Linked DNA regions of Homo sapiens: region 2 is linked to region 1. The links come from fine-mapping of genetic effects on gene expression. Tissue or cell type: skeletal muscle. Region 1 holds a variant in brackets; the other region holds the start of a gene. All regions are shown on one strand. Distances are from middle to middle.

What was found. PIP is the estimated chance that this variant, and not a neighbour inherited with it, causes the effect.
Region 2: it holds the start of ZNF83, and the variant in region 1 is fine-mapped to the expression of ZNF83 in skeletal muscle (GTEx, PIP above 0.99). The same link has a PIP of 0.9 or more in sigmoid colon and tibial artery.

The regions. Positions count from the first base shown.
Region 1 is chr19:52,688,124-52,690,798 of GRCh38, reverse strand. LOC122539214 (Zinc finger protein LOC122539214) reads left to right here and starts at 303. Exons shown (of 4, transcript NM_001396016.1): 1 at 303-356. It also overlaps a transcript of ZNF83 not described here. RefSeq lists a silencer at 131-340 and an enhancer at 634-1,169. The variant A/G (reference allele first, on the strand shown) is at 1,540.
Region 2 is chr19:52,637,036-52,639,714 of GRCh38, reverse strand. ZNF83 (zinc finger protein 83) reads left to right here and starts at 1,360. Exons shown (of 3, transcript NM_018300.4): 1 at 1,360-1,403. It also overlaps the pseudogene LOC124904757. RefSeq lists a silencer at 1,113-1,312 and enhancers at 1,523-1,642, 1,396-1,913, 1,914-2,432.

The DNA.
Region 1 (2,675 bases):
GAAATCCTATGTTCCGCCCTGGCAGGGCTTTGCATTTCACATTCTAGTTTGCATCCCCGTTCCAGAAAATTCCAGGGCTTTTGAATCATGCCTCATACTTCCTGGCCGCTGTCGCCTCCCAAACCCGAAAAACAGAGGCGCTGGGAGCCAGGATGTGAGACACACAGGTCCCGCCCCGGCCCCGCCCTCTGCCGGTTCTAAACCGCAAAGTCTCTCTGCTTCGCGCCCCGCCGCCACCCGGCCCAGGCCCCGCCCACCACCTCGCGGGGCCCGCCGAGGCCTGGCTTCTGTCCTGCGCGCGCAGATTCTCGCAAATCTGGAAGCGGATCGCGTGGAGTGACGGTCACACCGCGGCGGTGAGTTTCGCTGTTTTGTATTAAGTCTGCATTTCCCAGGTCCTCAGCGTTTCTGTCCCTCGGACCTAGGGTCCCCACAGATCTGGAACTTCTCTCCCGTCTTCACCCAGAGCAAATAGAGACATCCCCGTGAGAGTCTGGAAGTCGCTTCCTTTTGGGTCTAAAGTCGCCCTGAGGTTGGTCCCATCCCCTGTCTTTCTGCTCTAGGGCAATGTATACACTTCCTATCGCGTAGTTGTTGTTGTTTTTTTTTTTTTTTTCTCAAAATCATTTTCAGACTCCTCCCGCCCCGCGCTTTTTAACGTCCTCACCCGCGAAGTGGATTCCCGCCGTGGGCACCTCCCAGCCTTGCCCTTGTCGGCCTCTGAAGCGCAGCGCCGCGGCCCCTGTCCCGGGGAGGCCGTGTCCTCTGCCTAGTCCTGGGATCCTGCAGACCCCACCCTTGTCCTCAGGCGCCGTCGCCCCCCACCTCCCTCCTCGTGCCGGGCCCTGCTGCTCCCCAGGTCTCTCCTCCGCAGTCACCGCTTCTCCTGAGCCCGCGTTGGGGAGGTGCCCGGGGCCTGTCCTGTGACACGGGGTGTTCTTGCCTGCCCAGTTCCAGCCCCTGGAAAATAAGCTCCTCCGGGATGCAGGCGTCTTACTCCAAACCCTCCTGTGATTGTGTGGGCCAAAGGGATCAGGAGACGGACAGAGAGCAGTGGAAAACCTGAGACAGAGAAAAGAAGAATGAGAAAGAGCCATAAGAGATGGCAAAGTAGAGGATGGGTGAGGGATTTGCCAAGAGACAGCAAAAGTGAAAAGAAAACGATAAGAAAGCAGGAGGAGAAAAGCAAGTGCAGAAATGTAGAGAAAAGCTGGATGTACAGAGACATGAAGGACAGCAAGGTAGGGAGAGGGGCAGCAAAGAGGGAGGCTCATCAGGGTGAGGGAGAGGAGGAGGGATTTGGAGCCAGGGCAGACAGAGCAGAGTGGTGCTGGTGGCAAGGAGAACAGAGGGAGAAGCACAGCAGGGAGGACACCTGGGGATCTGGAGTGCTAGAGAGTGGGGATGAGGGTATAACAGGGAAGAGAGAATGTAACAGGGAGAGCAGAGGAGGCGCTGAGATGGGAGAAGAGGCGGAAATATTTGTGTTAGGGGAAACTGAAGAATGGAGAGACCAATATGAGAGAAACAGAATTGTTT[A/G]TTTTAGGTACGCACTGGCTCAGTGGATTCATATCCAAAAAGCTGAGCACTGAACAAAGACAGAGCAGGGTTTTTATAAGTGGCCTTACAAAAGCAAAACAAAAGCAGTTAATTATACAGTGACAGGTTGTGTAATCTATAGCATAACATATCTTGTGACCTTGGGTTGCCGGTGGCCTTGTAGCTGCATCAAAGGAAAAACAAGAACTGACTAAATACAGACATTTGTAAAACATAATAATGCTTAAGAAGCCTGGAAAAAGAGTAACAGTAAAATAATCTCTCTCTTTTTTTTTTTTTTTTTTTTTTCCTTCAACCTTGCTCTGGAAGGTGGGGGTGTCTGGAGCCCATTCATTTAGACTTGGCTATTCGGACAGCGTTATCCTGTAACCGTTCTTGATGTGAGCTTGACAGGCAGAGGAAAACTTGTTCTTTTCTTTTTATTTTTAAACCTTGCCTTGCCACATTGTGGGCCTTAGCTTTTACTTTTCTTGGAGTGAATAAATGCAGTACTTATTATTTTTAAATTTCTGTCCATATAGAGATAGAGGATGATCAAAAGATTGGGGAGAAGAGCAGCAAGATGTTAGATAAGTTACAAGGATGGAGCAGAAGAGGTGGAAGAGAAGGAATAGAGTGAAGAAGGGGATAAACAGCAGGAGAGGAGAGAGGTACAAAATGAGGAGCAGAACCCCGGGGGAAAATAAAACAAGAGCTAGAGAGAGAAGGGGAGAATGAGAGATACGTACAGAATCAGGGAAGGAAGCAAAGTAATGAAGAAAGAGAGGCTGGGTACAGTGGTTCATGCCTGTAATCCCAGAACTTTAGAAGACTGAGGCAGGGGGATTGCTTGAGTCCAGGAGTTCTAGACCAGCCTGCACAACATAGTGAGATCCTTATCTCTGCCAAAAAAAAAAAAAAATTAATCGGGTATGATGGTGCGCACCTGTAATCCCAGCTACTCTGGAGGCCAAGGGAGGAGGATCACTTGAGCTCGGGAGGTCCAGGCTGCAGTGAGCCAAGATCATGCCACTGCACTGCAGCCTGGTCAACAGAGTGAGACCCTGTTACCAAAGAAAAGAAGGGGCAGGGGGACTTTGGGATCAGATGAGTAGGTGAGTTTATTGGCTATGATT
Region 2 (2,679 bases), 51 kb after region 1:
CAGGAAGTGTGGCTTATGACTATAATCCCAGCACTTTCAGAGGCTGAGGCAGTCAGATCACTTGAAGTCAGAAGTTCGAGACCAGCCTAGCCAATATAGTGAAACCTCGTTTGTATCGAAAATACAAAAATTAGCCGGGCATGGTTGTGCGCGTCTGTAATGTCAACTACTCCGGAGGCTGAGACAGGAAAATCGGTTCAACCCAGGAGGCAGAGGCTGCAGTGAGCCCAGATCTCGCCACCGCATTCCAGCCTGGCCAAAAAAGAAAACTCTGCCTCAAAAAAAAAAAAAAAAAAAAATAGAAAAAACTAAATATATAAAAGAAAATAAGCCGGGCGCGGTGGCTCACACCTGTAATCCCAGCACTTTGGGAGGCCGAGGCGGGCGGATTACTTGAGGTCGGAAATTTGAGACCAACCTGACCAACATGGAGAAATCCCATCTCTACTAAAAATACAAAATTAGCAGGGCATGGTGGCACATCCCTGTGATCCCAGCTACTTGGGAGATAGAGGCATGAGAATCGATTGAACCTGGGAGACAGAGATCGCGCCATTGCACTCCAGCCTGGTCAACTAGAGCAAAACTCCATCTCAAGAAACAAAAAAAGAAACTGATAGATCTCTTACACAAATACGCTGGGACAACTAACTGGATATCCACGTGGAAAAGAATAATGTTGGATCCCTATGTAACATCATCAAAAATTTTATTATAAAAAAGAAAAGAGAGAGAGAGACGAGGAAGGGAGCCCTGCGGGAGGGGGTGTTACTTTGTCGCCCAGGCTGGCCTGAACTCCCAGGCTCGGCGATCCTCCCGCCGCTGCTTCCTGAATAGCTGGGACCTCAGGCTCCCACTCCCGCGCCCATATCCCAGCTGTGTTTAAGCCGCAGGTGGTGACCTCACCCATCCTTGGCCTGAGCACTCCATCCTGCATCTCAGGCAGTGGCCTGAGTCTCTAAAGCTGAGCACAGCGTGGACTCTCTCCCAAGTGAATGGAGAATAGAAAGGGAGAGGATTTCTATTCGGTTCTGTGGGCTATCAGCATGAAATTGTACCTTCCGCCCAGGCAGGGCTTTGCATTTCACATTCTAGTTTGCATCCCCGTTCCAGATAATTCCAGGGCTTTTGAATCATGCCTCAGCCTTCCTGGCCGGTCTCGCCTCCAAAACCCGAAAAATGCCTCTGCGCTGGGAACGATGCTGAGAGACTCACAGGTCCCGCCCTGGCCCCGCCCACTGCTGGTTCTAAAGGGGAAAGTCTCTCGGCTTCCCACCCCGCCCCTACCTCATCCAGGCCCCGCCCACCTCGCGGGCCCCGCCCAGACCTGGCTTCTGTACTGCGCGCGCACATGCGCGCAAACCCGGAAGCGGATTATGTGGAGTGAAAGTTACACCGTGGCGGTGAGTTTCGCTCTTCTATTAAGTCTGCGCTTACCAGGTCCCCGGCGCTGCTGTACCTGAGACGTGGGGTCCCCACAGACCTGGAAATTCTCTCCCTTCTTCCTTCACCCAGGACAAATTGAGACGTCCCCATGAGAGTCCGGATATCGCTTCCTTTTGGGTTTAAAGTCGCCCTGAGGCTGGGCTGTCCCCGGTCTTTCTGCTGTAGGGCGATGTATACACTTCCTGTCGCGTAGTTTTCCTGCTCAAAACTGTTTTCTGACTCCTCCCGCCCCTCGCTTTTTAAAGTCCTCACCCGAGAGCTGGATTCCCGCCCTGGGCGCCTCCCACCCTCGCCTTCGTAGGCCACTGGAGCGCAGCGCCAGGGCCCCAGTCCCAGGGAGGCCGCGTACTTTGCCTGGTCCTGGAATCCTGCAGACCCCAACCTTGTCTTAAGGCGCCGTCTCCCCCCCACCTCCCTCCTCGTGGCGGGCCCTGCTGCTCCACAGGTCTCTCCTCCACAGTCACCTCTTCCCCTGAACCCGCGTTGGGGAGGTACCCGGGGCCTGTCCTGTGACACGGGGTGTTCTTGCCTGCCCAGCTCCAGCCCCCGGAAAACGAGCTCCTCCGGGATGCAGGCGTCTTATCCAAACCCTCCTGTGATTGTGTCGGCCAAAGGCATTGGGAGACAGAGCAGTAGAAAAGCTGAGACAGAGAAAAGAATGAGAAAGACCCATAACAGAGGGCAAAGTAGAGGGTGGGTGATGGATTTGTCAAGAGACAGCAAAAGTGAAAAGAAAAAAAAAGAAAGCAGGAGGAGAAAAGTAACTGGAGAAACGTAGAGAAACCTAGATGTACAGAGAGATGAAGGACAGCAAGGTAGGGAGAGGGGCAGCAAAGAGGGAATCTCATCAGAGTGAGGGAGAGGAGGAGGGATTTGGAGCCAGGGCAGACAGAGCAGAGTGGTGCTGGTGGCAAGGAGAACAGAGGGAGAACCACAGCAGGGAGGACACCTGGGGATCTGTGGTTCCACATATTGGGGACAGGGGGTATAACAGGGAAGACGGAATTTAACAGGGAGAGCAGAGGATGCACAGAGATGGGAGAAGAGGCGGAAATATATCAAGATTGAGGACGATAGAACGATTGGGGAGAAGGAACAGCAAGAAGTTAGGTAAGTTGCGAGGATGGAGCAGAAGAGGTGGAAGAGAAGGAATAGAGGGAAGAAGGGGATAAACAGCAGGAGAGGAGAGGGGTACAAAATGAGGAGCAGAATGCCAGGTAAAAAGAAAAGAAA